Regions from separate parts of the Homo sapiens genome. Here region 2 is linked to region 1. The links come from fine-mapping of genetic effects on gene expression. A gene starts in region 1. The other region holds a variant in brackets. All regions are shown on one strand. Distances are from middle to middle.

Evidence for each region. PIP is the estimated chance that this variant, and not a neighbour inherited with it, causes the effect. A credible set is the group of variants that fine-mapping cannot tell apart.
Region 2: its variant is the best candidate, but not a certain one, in a credible set for the expression of TOX-DT in fibroblasts (GTEx, PIP 0.64).

What each region holds. Positions count from the first base shown.
Region 1 is chr8:59,114,760-59,123,101 of GRCh38, forward strand. TOX-DT (TOX divergent transcript) reads left to right here and starts at 4,451. Exons shown (of 3, transcript NR_149031.1): 1 at 4,451-4,526; 2 at 5,198-5,312; 3 at 5,577-8,342. It overlaps TOX (thymocyte selection associated high mobility group box), which reads right to left and starts at 4,388. Exons shown (of 9, transcript NM_014729.3): 1 at 4,127-4,388. The coding sequence starts at 4,228. RefSeq lists silencers at 1,025-1,074, 4,913-5,132.
Region 2 is chr8:58,859,478-58,867,819 of GRCh38, forward strand. All of the region lies in intron 3 of TOX (thymocyte selection associated high mobility group box), which reads right to left. Among named protein-coding and RNA genes, the nearest start is that of NSMAF, 200 kb to the left of the region's middle. The variant T/TAA (reference allele first, on the strand shown) is at 4,276.

The DNA.
Region 1 (8,342 bases):
AATAGGAATAATGACTCCTTCTTAATGTGCTTACAAATCCTGTATTTTTGATGAGTATTGCCACATTAAAGTATAATACATAATACATTTTAAATAGAAAATAAGCTCAAAGGAGATTTTGCAGAGACTGTAATGAATCTCGTTATTCTTAAAAGTTATCAAATGTCTAATGTTTGTCCTGACATTTTCAAGCAGAGTTCATCACAAATGGGTCCTTCCTTGTGCGTTTTTACGAAAAAGAACATATACACTGTCCTTCCTCATTTCAATGATAAAAGCTGAATATTCCAAATGCCCACTATTCTTCACTCTGTATATCACCAGCATGAAGCATGGGTTTGTGTTTTGGACTTCCCTGTTTCTAAATCAACCAAAGAAAGATTCAGGACATGATTCCATAAAGGCAACCACTGAGAACAGTGAAGCCCATTATTTCTCCTCCCACTGCAGGCCGAGGTCACCATCCCTGTCATTAGCCATGTCATAACATAATTGTATTACTACTCCTTATGTGGGCAGATACTGAGCAATAACTGAACACATCACATCGTTGTAAAAATGAAAAAGTACCACTTCTTTGTCCTATCTTAGCATAAAACCAGTGAAAACAATCTTTGGAAATGACGCTGCACTAAGAAACTGAAAAGAACTGTTATTACTCTGTAGGTATATATTTAAACTGATGATCTGACATCTTTAACTAGAATAGAAAACAAGACTATATCACTACAGAACTCCAATTGTAAGCTCATTTAATCCAATTTATTTTGGTAGCATTCAGCTCAATTAAGGGATACAATGTTACTTAAAATAGTCTAATTAGATGAAACTCCACTATGGTACTCATCTTTCAATGTCTGAAATATAACCATGCATTAGGCTGCAAGAGGTGAATACTGTTAACTCCAGCCTCCATGTGTCTGTCCAGTCTATGAGCTACACTGCTATTTCCAACACTGACCTATATACAGCAACATGCCATCCGTTCTGGCTGTTTGTGTAAGAGATGCCTCACACACTTGCCTTAACCAACATCATTCGCATTGTTCCCACAATGGGCTATGTGAAAATGGAGGCTACTTTGCATAGTGATATGTTCATAACGTGTATTAGTCTTACAGTAGAGCAATACTAGATTAAACCGTTTCCAAAAATGCCTCCTCCAGAGTTTATTAACTGAAAAATGTAAGTAGCATTTTGGCAATCTATAGAGCAGCAGTGCCGGAAAGTGTCAGCAGAGTAAAACAATCACATTTTAGTTTAGAAAGCTTCAGGAAGAGAATATTCATTTTCTCCATTAGAGTCTCTTCTGACATTGAAAAAAATGTCACCGGGAAACTGTAGCTACAGTTGTAGGATTCTAAAGCACAGATAGATACTGGTTCCGCTGGGATTTAGCACACCAACTTTAAATAAGCAAAGTGTTGACAGGTTTAAAATAAAGATAATTAGTAATTTATGATCTTATCACCCTATTAAAAACAAATCACCTGACAAACTGACTGCTATTTGTAGTAAGCTACATATTCATTACGCCTCCGAAGGAAGCAAGATTTACTTTGCAGTATTGTTCTTTTGGGGATGTCTGATCCAACTTGTTTTAATAAATGTAGGCACAGATTTCTTACTTCACCTTTTCCAAACTTCTGTCCTTCTTCCATTTCCCTGCAAATCCACTCATGTCATTGCAAAAACAAATGCTAGTTGACTGCATTATGCACAACTACAATTGTGGAGCTGGACAGAAATTTTGTACCAATGCTAATCATGGTGGAGTGAAAAAACTCAAGTGCCTGGGATTTGTGGGGCCTAGAAAACTATCCAGTACATTTAATATAATCGGGACCAGTGACAAATATATCTGATGGACTGCTACACAGAGATGGGCCAGAGATGTCCCTGGAGAAACATTTCCATGAAGTCTTCTTCCACTATTAGAAACATGTCTTATGACTTTGGATTTTAAAAAATCTATTATTCTCTGGATAAGTTAAATAGAAGACTCGCAACTAGTCTACAGAAAGGGTGCCTAATTTGCATTTAAAAAGAACAGTTTGCTTCTTATACACGGGGTGACTTAAAAGGAACTTCAATGAGCTAGTAAAGAAATTCTGAATACTTTCTAAATTAATTTATTCAATTCACAGCACAACCCACTAAAATTATTTAAAGCACTTAATTGGAAAATGATTTAATATATTGAAGTAATTCCTGATTTTCCAAAGCATTTAACTTTTAAATTAAATCTGACCCTACTTATCACAAGAACGAGGAGTGAAATGTGTATCCAAGTCATTAACTTCTTTTTGGGGCCTAAAATCACTGATAAACTTAATAAGATTTGTCCAGTCTCATTGCCAAAATAGTTCTGAGCTTTTGGTTCCGGTAACTACAGTGGAATAAGTCTTTACTCTCCAAGATAGGGCTGCAACTTTATTATTTTTTATTAGCAATAGTATTGGTGTCATAAGCAAAATAAAACGTAACACAATACTTGAGTGTACAGACAAAACAGATTTTAGACTAAAAGAACTATGTCACCAGCAAATAATGAAACTTCATCACACAAACTCCTATGCGCTTGCCAAAGTTCCCCGTACCTTTCAACTTGCCCGTAGCTGAAGGGCTCCCTGTACAATGGAAGCCCTTCTGCCTTGCTCAAGACTGGATGTCCCTCTTTTCTAACTTGCCTAAACACCATCGGCACACAGCACAGTCCTTTGAGTGGGTCTCACACTGGACACAGCATCGAGGAGCTTCTCCACGGGGAAGTGTGTGTGTGAGAGCCTGCCTGTGTGTCAACACTGTCCAAGACTCGGAGCTGCGACTCGGTCGCGTGGTGCGGAGTCCAGGGCTGAGAAGGCAGCGCACTAAATATCTCTGTATCAGGTAAAAAAGCCGTTTGGTGATGACTCGCCACCAGGCAAATGTTGGGAGTCCCAACGATTTTTCCCGTGGAATGCACCGAGGGTCGCCATGGATGTGCCTGCAGGGGCTGTGAGTATCAGGCAGATTTATCACCAAGCGAGAGTTGGGCGTCTAAAAGGCCCGCCCAGCGTTTTAGAGAACTCAATTCTCTCTGCCAACGTTCATCCAACGGGACTGCTTAGACACGTCCAACTAGCCCTAGGCGTGGGCAGTCGTGCCCCTGCGACCACTCTGGGGGACCGGTCCCTGCGTGTCCTCCCTCTCTGGGATGAGAGAGTTCGAGAAGCCGGGAGAGTAACCCCCTCCCTCGTACCCCCTGACTGTCCTATAGGTGGACCCAGCCGAACTCCGCAGCAGCCCAGGCCAGCGCCCCACCTCCGGGTCACCGGCATGATCCGCCTCTCCCCGGGCCCCCGCGGCCCTGGCACCCGAGGTCAGCGGGCCGTGGGTACAGCTCAGCCGCGGACCCTGCTCCGCGAGTGCGGGAGCTTTGGACTTGAACGCGACGTGCTCGCCCGGCTCCCAACAAACTTGCAATTTCCGCGCGCACCCCTTAAACAGGAACTGTTCCCCAAACCTTGACCCAGCTACCCCGCTGTGCTCTGGCCCGCGGACCTGTGTCCGAACCCGGGCTCGGCTGCCGGAACCGGTTTGAGAAAACAAAAGAGTTGTGGGGCAGTTTTCCCTGTGGGGGGCAGGGGCGCCTCCCAGGTCCCTGCACCCCGACTCCCGGCTGCTCCCCTGGCAACTAATCCGGAGAAGGGAAGTGGTGCCACGAGCCCCCACTGCCCGGGGAGGGAGGGAGAGAGAAGGGGGAACTGGGAAATAAACTGAATTCTCTTACTCTGCCTCCGTTCCTGGACCCCAGACACACCCCCAAAGTATTCCACGGTTTTCTCTTATTATTTTTTTAAACGCCCCCCGGCAAACCTAGGCAGGGATCCTTAGCCGCGAACAGCAGGAAGGAAAGAATCCGAGCAAATCGTGTCACTTTCCGCACAATCGCGGTGTTTGGCAAGCCCCCGGAGCTACTCCACAATATTTACTACCCAAGCGCACGCAGGCTGCAGCGGGCTGCGAGCCGAGCGCGCCCGGGACCGGCCTCCGCCAAGCCGGCCCCGCCGCGGCCCGGCCACCGCCGCTCCCCTCCCAGGATCAAGCAGCAAGAACACGGTGGAAACAAAAGCAGAGCGTTCACCTTGTTGCAATAGTAGGGGTCCAGGCAGGGAGAAGGTCCCAGACAGGGAGCGTCGGGCGCAGCGGCGGGCTGGGCTGGAGGTGGATAAAATCTTACGTCCATTTCACTCTCACATCAAGCAACTCCTTTTCTTTTTCCTTTTTTAAAAAAAAGTGTTCAGCAAAACAAGCTTAGACGGAACAGAGTGAGGTGTCTGGGCTCAGGAGTAAAAGAAACACCTTCCTTCCCTCACATCCGTTTGTGGTTTGTTTAAGAAGAAGAGGAAAAAAAAAAAAAAGAGGGGGGAAAAGCGCTCAACTCTCCCCCAAGCCGCGGCGCGCACCCGTCGGCGCCGAGCGCGCAGCCTGCTCCACCGCCGCCTCTTGGTCCCGCCGCCGCCGCTGCCGCCGCCGCCGGGCAGGTAACTTCATGCGCTCATTGTCCCCCCCGCCCGCCCCCCCATCCCCGCCTCCCGCGCCCCTCGCAGCCCGGCACACGCGCTCGGGCTCTAGGTACTGGGCGTTTTATTGGAGATTCTGAGTTGTTCTGCTTGTAGTTTATTTTCTCCACCTTGGAGGCCCGGGATGTGGGGGGTGGGGGGGTGGGGCGGGGATCCAGAAGGGACAGGGCGGGAGGGGGGCGAGCGTCCCGGGCCGGGCGGGGTAGGGAGCGCGGCCGGACGCGGGCTCGTCAAGGCCCAATGGCTGCTGTTCGGAACCAGAGGCCGGGGACCGGAGAAAGGAGGAGCGGAGAAGGAGAAGGAGGAGAGCACGGCCTGGCTGGGACAGAAGCGGTGGGACCCTGGGAGGCCTCCGCTGTGCCCGTGCCGCGCTCCTCGGGACCAGCGCGTCGCACACAAAGGGGCTGCCGAGCCAGAGCCACCAGCGGCCTCAGGGCACCGTGGGGAGCGCGCAGCTAGGGGGCGCTGTGGCGCACCCCGCCCCGCAGCCCCGCCCCCGGCCCTCCCCGGCCCCACCCCACTCCCACCGCCCTCTCCGCGGCCGTCCCCACCCCTATCTCCGCGACCCCCACTCCTCCTCGGCTGTTCCCCAACCCTGTCACTGTGCTCCCCTCCCTACTCCCGGCCCGTAGTGGAGGTGACTTTCCTGCGCAGCGCCGCTTCTGAGGGCGGAGAACCCACAGGGAGTGCGACCCCTTTGCACGCTGTGAGTGGGCAACTGTCCGAGGGACTCGAGCCGATCGAAGGGTGAGGACCAGCTCGCCTGGGGGTGGACGGCCTGGAAAAGCCGCCCCTCTTTGGCTTCCCTCTGCCGCCTGCAGCCCGCACCCCTCCGAGATTCGTGCCCCACTGGACGGTTTGCGAAGGCTGAGGCTGCCTTGGGGACTCACAAAAGACCACAGGGGTGATTCGAAGTGTAAATAGGGAAACAATCATCAGCACACAATCCGGCTAAAGGGATAACATATGAGTTTGCTTGTTGTCCTTCATGGGATTCTTCTCTTTTTATAGCTGGACGCCCTATAGGGCTCTTGGCAGTCCACGAAAGACCTGGAGTCCGCCTCCCCATTTCTCCGGTCGGTGAGTGGCAGGAGGAAATCGCCAAACATGTTTTCCCGCTTTGCCTCCCCAACTCGGAAACTTGCAACTTGCCGTGTCCTGGAGGTTGAGACAATTTGGGGTCTCTTGGCTGCCGTCCAACAGATTTATCTCTGAGGGCAGTGTCCTTGGTGAGAGGTCCAAGTAGGTGTGGGCGACATTGTCCTCCATCTCATGAGGGAGCAGCCCTGCACACTAGGGCCCAAAACTCTGCGAAGGAGCTTGGAAGTTCTTCATCCGTTCCACTTGTTTTGCTACTCCACACACCCTTCTAGGACATGTTGATTGCCAACTGCTCTGTGCAGCTTTCCCATAGCTGTCTGTTCCCGTGCATTTCGGAGCACCAAGCAAATACGAGCAGAGAGACCTGGAAAAAAAAATGATGAAGACAGTATTAATGATAAAATTAACATGGCTGAGTGAATTGTCAATGCAAGTTCCTTTACTAACTCTTTGTTAAGTTTTGCTTTGTACTCCTTACATCCTCTTTCTCTTAAGCCATTGTTTTAATTTCTTCTCGTTATCATTTTTAAAAGTAACAGAAATACAGCTTTCTTCCTACCTTCACGATTGACTTGGTGGAGGTTGGGTTGCAAAGAGGAAGCAGTAAGAAAAAATAATTATTCTATACATTCACAAGTCCTTCAAGGCACAAAATAAAAGTAAGAAATAGAAAATATGTCCTTTCTCCTAATAAAGGTCTTTATAATAAAATTTAAATGAAGTTTTGTGTTTCATAACAGCTTCCCAAATACTGTTGTAGATACTAAAATGTGCCTGTATGTATTTCCTTCCACAATAATAATAGTAATAATAAACTTTTTTAGGTCCAAATTAAACATTTCTCAGCTTAAATTTCTATCCTCAATCCAACATTTATTATATCAAAACTTGATTTTTAAAAATAAAACTTTCTTGGAATTCATCATTGATGTCTGTTTGATGGCCTCGTGAACATCAGGAAGATGAAATGAAATGGTTCAAGACTGGAACAATACCATTATCTGCATCTTGACTCCTGGGAGATAATGATATCTCCTGCTTTCCTCTACAGACCTACCAGTTTTCTCTGCTTTAAGGGAAAATCCAAATGCATGAGACCTGTGCATTCTTCTACATAATCAAGAGTCTGGTTTCTTCCATCGGAGTGTATGGAGTTAAAGTGGTATACTGTACATGGCATGGTGTGATAGGTGGGAATATGAGCTACTGGGGGAAAAAGTTCTTACTTCTAGCCACTTATACAAAGAGAGGCCATCTCAGTGTAATCTGAAAAAATGCTCACTTTATAATGCTGTATCCAAGGCCCATCAAAAACTAAATGGATGTATTTGTACTAAAAGTTGGGGAAAGTTGAATATCTAAACCTCTGAGCAAATCTTTCTTAATTTAGAAAATAAAATAGAGCATCATTGTAATACTTTTCAGTTTCCTGGACATTCAACTCCACATCATGGATAAATAAAATAGTTATTTGTCCATTCACTCATTCATTTGTACATTAATCAACAGAGAGAGTGGTGAAAAACACTAATGCTTTGTATTATTTATAGGTTTAAAATACAAAACAAATTACTTAAAATGGTTCCTGCTCTAGATGTAGTCTTTCAGAGTAGTATTTTCCAAACTAGTCTGGTCAGTGAAGTCATCTTAGCAGTTTAGAAAAATACTCATGCCAGAGCCCCACACGCACAGATTCTGATTCAGTTCTTTTCAGGTAGGGCCTGAGCACAGGAATTTTTAAAAGCTCTCCAGTGGCTTTAATTTTCAGAAAAGATTGAGAACCACTGGCCTAAAAGGAAAGATAAGGTAGTCTAGAAGGAAAGAGTCCTTAACAAAGGAAATGTTAAAAGTATGAAATTTTAGTAGATAGGCTGGATTGTCATTTTGTGTTGATCCCCATAAGAGGACATTGAGGATCACCACTCCCAAAACCTCATCACCTACGCTGCCTTTTAGAGATGGAGTTGGCAATTTGCCCATTTACTGTCAGTAAACTTGCATGACTTGTAAAGGTCCAGGTTACAGTTTATTCACCTGACCTAGGAACTTTATGTACTCTAGTTACCAGAAAATGAGTGCCTGTAAACAAAACGTGTCTTTACCAGTGCTGATGTAATGCTATCAGTACCTACTTGTGAAATGCCTACTATATCGTGGACCTGGTCCTAATTTCTTTACATTGAATTTCGCAGTCTTATTTAATTTTCCAGATTACTTTGGAAAGCCTCATCAGTAATTACAAACCACACGGAGCATTTGATTTTGTTCCCTCAACATTGCCCATCTTCACTTTAATTATAGTTTCACAAATTGTTACGTTTTCAAATTTATACTTGTTTTCAGTGACCACATTTTATGTCTACTGATTCTTTGTATTATGTAGGTTAAGTCCTAAATCTTGTAGTAATGTCTCCAAATCACATACAGAATGTGTTACTTTGGGGAAAATAGCTTTTAGACAGTTAATCCTATCTGTGATTTACAAGAGTCTTATAAAAATTATTCAACAAACCATGGTACTTCCTGGCAGGCATTCTTTGCTAGATTTTGGAGTTAGTTTTTCTTCAAGGGTTGAAGCCCTCTATAGATGCACATGAGAATGAAATGTCATATAGAGGGGTTGATTTTGAAATGCCAGATATTAAAACTAAAATCAAAGCCTGCCGTATTGTATAA
Region 2 (8,342 bases), 260 kb before region 1:
CAGTACGCTACAATAGAATACCTGTAGTTTAGTTAGGGTAATTAGTCATTATAAAACAATTTATCACAAGAAAGTAAGAACCCTGGAGCACAATTTATTAGATATTTGCCAAATGAACAGCCATAGTACTCTCTAGAACCACCATCTTCAGAGAAGATTAAAACTGCCTCAGAAACCAGTGCTCACACTGCCTGACTTCTACATTACCTGACCATCTCACTCCTTTACACTGTGGTCTCTCCATTGTGGCTTCTTCCACGAATGGGCCCCTTATTACTCAAGGAATTTGGTGTGTTCAGAGCAAAACATCACTGAAGAGTCTTAAAAGTGATGGCTAAAAATCACACTGGCTAAAAACCATGTCACCAGTTTTGGTGTTTGTTTGTTTGTACATCGTCTCCCAGGGATGAACCAAAGATCAGATATTGAAGAGCAGCAAGCAACAGAGAGAAGGGGGACCCTGAACCTGTTAACGCCCTTAGTGCCCTTGCCTGGCCTCCTCTGCAGAACTCCACTGCAATTGCTGCCACATCCAGCAGATCCAGAAAGAAGTGTCTTAGTTGCTCTAGTGTATGCATCTGGATTTATATCTATAAACAACTGAAAAAGCAATTTTACGCCATTTTATTCGATTTTTTTCCTTTCTCTAAAGGAGAGGGGGGCCGTGTGCTATTGTGGAGGCAACCCTGTTCATGACACCTAGCTGCCACTGTTTCTAATGAGTTGTCTTACTTTCAACTTCTTTAACCCTCATTTTTCAACTCATAAAAAGAGGATAATTTTTCACCAACAAATATTTATTGAGTGCCTGCTATGTGCCAGGCACTGTCTTAGGTACCTGGTCCACAGTGGTGACCATGTAGTTGGAATTCGTGCCCTGATGCAGCTCACTTCCTAGTGGAAGAGACAGACAAGACAATAAATATTTTAGGACAGTGAGATGTTGTAAGGAGACAAATAGGAGAGGAGTGTACTGACCTTAAATGCTTCCTTAAAACATGACTGTGAGGATTAACTAAGATAAGGACTACGAATGCATTTTGTCACAAATGAATTCATTTTTGTGGTTGCTGCTCACGCTGATGGTTCTCTTCGGTTATTATCCTTGAGTTGCTTTCCCTGACCAGTTCTGGTCCCTGGTGAGCCACTGACACAATTATGACCAAACATTCTGGCAGCCAAAAGCTTGTATCTATGGGGACCTTCCCTGGGATAAGCAGGGCAGCTTACAGTCACAGAGCACAGGGTTTCACTGAGAGAAAGTCAACAGCACAGATAAAGGTTGAACTTATAACCTGGGTTTTAATAGCTCCCTGATCAAGGCTAATAGGCTAACTGGTAGATACAAAGTTCAAAAACATTTTAACGTATAAAAAGGTATTCCAGTTCATAGGACAGCATTCTTTTCCATCAACTATGTACATATAATCTCTCTTTTGGATCACAACTTCGGCCAGGAGGTTATGGCGTATAGCGTTGCCCTTTAACTGCACAGTTGGAAAGATGTTTTTTACTCAGATTGAGCCACCTCGTTTCTGATTGCTTCATGCCAATGCCATTTGTTTCCTGCTGTGAATCTTAAACTATCAACGTCAATATTACCAAGTTTGACACACCGTGCTTCAGTGAGCCCTTGAAAGGGCTTTCCTGCCCAGCGAAAATAAAGGAAATGTGCAAATGGGCAACAGGCAAAGTTTACTTTTACTTGACAAGGTGCATCTCTCATAACTGCAGATAATGGCAGGACATGAGAGGCTCACGGACTAAAGGGTCTGTCCTGTCTAAAAGAGCTCTGGGGATCATGTGGTCCACCCTCTGATTCCCAAAACATCTGAATTAGCAGTTCCTACAAATTACATCTCTGGTAAGGGGAGTTTATGAATGTGCTCTGGGTCTACCTATGATTAGAATCAACGAAGCCTTTTATTTGTATTTGTATAGATCATGACTTTTGCATCTGTGCTACAAAGTGTAGGCAGTGTTTTGTTCACAAGGGGCTATGATTTTATATTAAAAGTGTATCAAACATGCTACTGTTTGCTCATATCTCCTTTGTTTTGATGTGCCCAGAGAAGGGACTGAATAATGTGCTTTATTTCTAGAATACTTTCAAAGGATTGTGTGCATTGAAATAAAAAGAATGGATTGGAAGTGTAGGTTAAGTAATAAGAAAATTGGGACGTACTGGGAGACATGCCGTCTGGGAGTAGCGGATCACTTACTAGAACTACCTCTGTGTATTCATAGCAGCATGAGCTAGCAAGAATGCTTCTTCACACCATATTTAAACTTGGGAATTTAAGTTGCTTTCTCATATTTTTCCACGGAATGTTAATGGGATGCTTGCAAAAATAGAGATGTCAAGTGGGATATTGACTTCCTAACATCAGTTCAGAACATTGATATTTGAGTTCATTTAGAGGCACTTAAATCATTAGATACACGTGACATTCAGCTTAAAAATACATCTTAAGAAGCAAAATTAAAACCTTATATTCTGCTTGAGCCAGACAGCTTCCCTGTGCAGAATACTTGTATGCCCCAACTTATTGGAGACTTGAAGAAAAGTACAATTTTTACATTAGTATTTTATTATGGAAATCATCCAATAATCCTTTCAAATAATACATTATAAAACATTAAAATAGCATGAAACGAAGACAGGAAAAGGCTGGAAATCCTCTCCTTTTGAGCATGGTATTAATAACTTGGAACAATCATTCTAGGAAAATTACAATGTCTTTCAGCTATTTTAAAGTGTCTGACTCTGTAAGTGACCTTAAGCTCCTTTAAAACAATTACAAGATTCAAATATTTGTCTGCCAAAATTTTATAGCATGTTAGATAATGGGATAGATGTAATTATATATAGTCTCAATATTTCTAGGTATACCTAATTTAGTTAATATTAACATCACTCACTCATTTATGGTTTTATAAACTTTGAGTCACATAAGGTCAAGGTCTCAAAACTAATCATAAAAACTAGTGACTGCTATTCATGCTAATATAATGATCCTTTCTTTAAAACAACAGCCAATAAATTTCATTATAAAAAGTTATTAAAAGGGTTAAAAACCTATTAAATGTCAAAGAATTTGCCTGACTCAAACTTCTAATAAAGAAAGAGAATAGGCTTTCTTTCTGAATTATTTAAATCTTTACTGACTGTGCACCGAACCATGAAATTAGAAAAGTGTTATTAGAAGTATTCTCTGGTTTTTATAAAAGTTGGAGCCCAGAATGTATCAAGCCATAGTCTTTAACTAGACTAGCTAAAGCAGTAGGTCTTTAATCCTAAATACATGGCTTCTACTGATATAAAGATCATAATTAAAACTCTATCCTGTAACTTGGTGATAATAAAGTTATTATTACAGAGGCACACATGTTCATTTAGAATATATGAACTACATGTTCTAATTTTAATTTGAACAAATATCTTCCATTTTGGGGGGATAGTTCCATGTCCACTAACATAGACCCTCTCAACTAATAATAAGGTTTTAATAGTGACTGACTTTAAAGCACTAATGTTAATAATTTGAATTATCTATCATTTACTGGTTTAACACCTACCAAATATACATTGAAATTATGTCATTATGGTCTAAAGTGTTAAAAAAAATCATAATCCTGCATGATTATAGCCCTGTGTGACAAGTGGCATAAATAAATTTAGGTATTATTGAAAAATAGGAAATATATCTTTCACATTTTCAATCTCTATTTCTCCAAGTGACTATACTCAGCACAACTGATTTGAACTGGTCTCTCTCTCACAAGCAGGTAACTGTCCTCATATCAGTTTCCTCAAATGCCCATTCTTAGCCTTTGGTAATTGTGATTTTAAGTTCTCTTATTAAAAATATCTAATACTGACAGGTCCCACCTAATATACTAAGCACGGTACTAAGAAGTTTCCATGAATTACCCTATTTAGGACTCACAGCAACCAGGTGAAACTGTTACAGTCGCCACTGCCATGGTACTCACGAGGGACCCAAAGGAACAGAGAGGGCATTCTCCAGTTATTCAGTAAGTGGGTCAGCTGCAATTTGTCACAGGGCGCCTGATCTCAAAGCCTATATCATAACCATGGAACTGTACTATTGACTCAGTGTATGATCTGATGATGTTTTTAGCTGTTCTTTAAACAAAAGATAGTTGGAAGGACTTATAGGGGAGGATGCAGCTAGAACCTAGAATGACTGAATTTAATGCACTAATTTCTTTTGCAGGAAATTCAATTAATTTTTTTTTTAACTGAACACT[T/TAA]ACTCTGTGCCTCGCACTGTGAGAGGTCCTAGGGGAAACAAAGACAGATGAGACTATCCCTGTACTCAAATAACTCACAGCCTGGAAGACATACTATAATACAAGTCAAAGGGGATTAATTGCTATAACCAAAATTGCACTGCTATAGAATTGCAGAGAATAATGCTGCAACAAGGAGTCTGTCTGCATTGCATTAAAATTGCAGTGAGCATCACTTAGAATTAAGAATTTTTTTTTTAACATCAGAAGGTACATGAGTAGAATTTAACTCCGGAGGCAATATAATTGACAGCAGACACACCATCTAATTGTTTGACAGTCAGTACATCTGCTATATTTTCATAAAAGTAATGATATGTCTAAGATAGTGTGAAAGAAAATTGAACAAAAATAAAACAATCATGTGGCCTTTCATCCAATGATAAGGATGAGTTTAAAACCTCAAAAATTCAACATACAATCAAATTATACTTTAAAAAATGTGGCTAAAAGCTATCTGACAGTTTGATTTCTGTTTGGGAATTAGCAATGTGATTCTTAAGTGTATTGTCCTGTAAGTCTTAGGATGACTAGACTTAGTCTGTAGTTTCAAGACTATATGTCAGAATATATTCTGAGGTATAAAGTTGTTTTAACTGAAAGAAATCAAAAAACAAAAATAAAAAATACACTACCATTTGATACTATATTAGCAGAGAGACCATTTCACCAGTCCCCAAATATGGGCCTAACGTTTCAAAAATAACTTGGGTTTTTTCATTGGGTCCTAAAAAACATTTATGGGTACAGCAACAGTAGCCATTTTTATCTAGAGCTTTACAACGTTCATTTCATTAGCTAAAAATGTTGCCACATAAATTATGCTTTCACAGAGTGACTGACAAACATTTCCATCAAAACCTTTCTTTATATTGTTTCACTTGTCAATCAGTGCCTTTCACTTGTTAGTAAAGCATGTTTTCTAGAAGGGAAGAATGAAAGCAAAACACTCTGTAAGAGAAGGTGGAGAGTGCACAAGTCTTACTGTGGGCCCAGACGGGGATCATGGCTTAATTATGTGAAAGCTTAATAACTCTCTGAGACAAAATTGAAAGGGAAAAGGAACTTGGAACAAATTCATTGTGAGGCATAAACACTGAGTAGACATCGTTCGCTTAAAAAATACAGTTTCCTTTCACTTTAACAGTGAAAGACTAAATGGATGCTTGATGGGTTTATGAGAGCTGGTATCAGAAACTTGTATCAGAAAAGAAGAGCTTTCCCTACATTCAGTTTTAGATGAAGACAACTTTTCCCACTTAACCATTAAGTGGCATCTCTCCCATGCAATCTAACTGAGGAAGGTGGTGGATGGGTGAGACACTGAGGAGATGTTGACCTTAAAGACCCAGCAAAGCCTGTGGAACCATTTCTAGGCCATTGTAAGCTTTTAAAATTGTGTACAAGGGGTTTAACCACAGGAGAGTAATGAATACATATGTTGATTATAATGACTCTGGTGTGGTCCCTGCCATTATATATTGGAAGGCTGTCTCAGAATAAGAATTCAATTAAGTTTGCAGTTAACTCTGAATATTCATGCCAACAATCAGGATAACACAATTTTGGTAAAATGTCCAAATATTCTCAGAAAACAGTGTTTTTAAAAATTTAATTTGGTATCCTCGTACTTTTTTTTTTTTAGTTTTAATTCTTGTTGAAAACTGTTCTAGAATGCCTTTGCCTGCTTTTCTGTCCCTGTTAAATACCTGATTCTCAATAAAATCTTGAAAGGATTTCAAGAGAATAAATTTTCCCCTCAATTATAATTGTGAAGTTTTGTGGTTATGGAATATGGAACAGACTAAAGCAATTGTATGCTGCTCTGTGGACATGCCCTTCTTAAATATATTTTCGGTCTTTATGTGGTAAAAACAAAAAGAAAAGAAAAAGAAAATATGAGTCAGCTAATTGAGAGTATTGTTTGGAGTCGTTAGTAGAGATTTTAATCTGCCAGGGGAATTTTTTAAAATTAGAAGTAATATTCATTTTGTCATTTCACTATCTTTTTTCTTAATTATGGTAATGACAGTGGCTTTTTTTTTTTTTTTTTTTTGTCCTGAGACAGAGTCTCACTCTGTCGTCCAGGCTGGAGTGCAGTGGCACGATCTTGGCTCACTGCAACCTCCACCTCCCAGGTTCAAGTGATTCTCCTGCCTCAGCCTCTGGAATAGCTGGGATTACAGGCACCTGACACCACACTTGGCTAATTTTTGTACTTTTAGTAGAGACAGGGTTTTACCATGTTGCCCAGGCTGGTCTCAAACTCCTGACTTCAGGTGATCCACCCGCCTCAGCCTCCCAAAGTGCTGGGATTATAGGCATGAGCCACTGTGCCTGGCTGACAGTGACATGTTTTTAACAACAACAAAGTACGACTGTGGCCTAAGTCTATATACTAACAGAACCACTTAAACAATAAATTTCTGTATTGTAAAAGAGTTGACTTGCACTTAGTTATACAGGGATTGCTGGATGAGAAGGTACACTGACTGACATACTCATCAAGCAGTGGTTCAATAACCTCCAACAGGGTCAGACTGCCAGACACTAAAAAGGATAAATTATTTTAGGATTTACATAATTACCAGACTGATAAGCCTCACACATTTTAATGCCACAGGAATAAAAAATAGCAGCATTATTTATTACAAAACCTTAATTGCAACAAAGTAACTGATAGAAACAGCTGCTATGTAAGTACTTACCTTTGGACACAAATTTATGCTTTCTATCCTTTTCTTAACCAATGCCCCCAGGCAATCTTAACTTAGGTAAATTTTTTCAATATGATGCCCAGCCTCCTGAAAAAAATGTTAATTGGCAGAATGGCCATTTAGAATAGAATTATAATCTTACTAACTGCACATTTATAAATTGATATTTGCAACTCTGTTGTCCCCTAATTTCCTGGTGATAGAAGAATTCAAATACTGATGTCAAATTGAGTAGCTTTTAAAAGAATGTTAAGTATGTGTGCTACGGTGAGGCAAGATATTTCTTACAAGTTATGAGAAATGCACTTTGCTTATGGGTAAAACGTGGTTTAATGATATGGAAATAAGCTCAAAGTTCCTCTGTATTGTATTTACTTACAATTTTTGTGTCTAAGACATATTTAATATCTCAGCATAATTATATGACCACAACATGACAACTCCAATAAATAGGAAAAATCTCATTTACATTGATCAACTGAGGGAAAAGTGAGAAACTTGCACCATTAAAGTTTAGAGCCTATTATAGGAGAACAAGAAGGAATATCTACCCAGCATTTTTTAAATTTAAAACCCTCTGATCATTCTTCTGCATCTACATTTACAAAAGCTAATAGAATTTTCCAGGAACAGTTTATTTTTTGAAGACAAAAAACACTCTTGGCAAAGACAGAAGTCAGAATCTTCTGGAATAGTACATTATATTTTATTTCCCCTTTCATAGGCCAGGGGTATTTTAGTTAAAGACTAAAATCACTTATATTTTGATGTTGTTCTTTTTTAATAAAAAAAAGGGAGATAGCTTTTATTTGGCTTATGTTCCTGGCCTTCAGCCCCAAACGCTCATTGTCTGCTCACAAGGTATAGCACATAAGCAGGCGCTGTCCCCATTCTGGGGGTGGGGGTTGAAGGGACTAAAGGGCTGGGTCTAGATGAATAAGGCTCTACGTTTCAGTCTCCCTCGAGGGCAGCCTCCTCTAAGAGGCTTTCCCGGACAAGCCTATTAAACGTAGATCCATCCTTCCTAACCCAAGCATCTTTTTCACAGCATAACCACAATCTAACATTGTCTAGGGTAAGACTCTGCAAACTCTAACATGTACATGAATCTTTTAGGAATCCTCTTAAAGTGTAATTGTGATTCAGAAGTTCTGAGGAGGGGCCTGAGACTCTGCATTTCTAACATTCCAAGGTGGTGTCAATGTGGCTAGTGTGTGAACCCAAGTTTGAGCAGCAGGGCACGAATTTGCACAAACTAATTGGCTCTCCTGACCAGAATCTAAATTCTGAGGGCTGGCTTTTTTGCTTGAC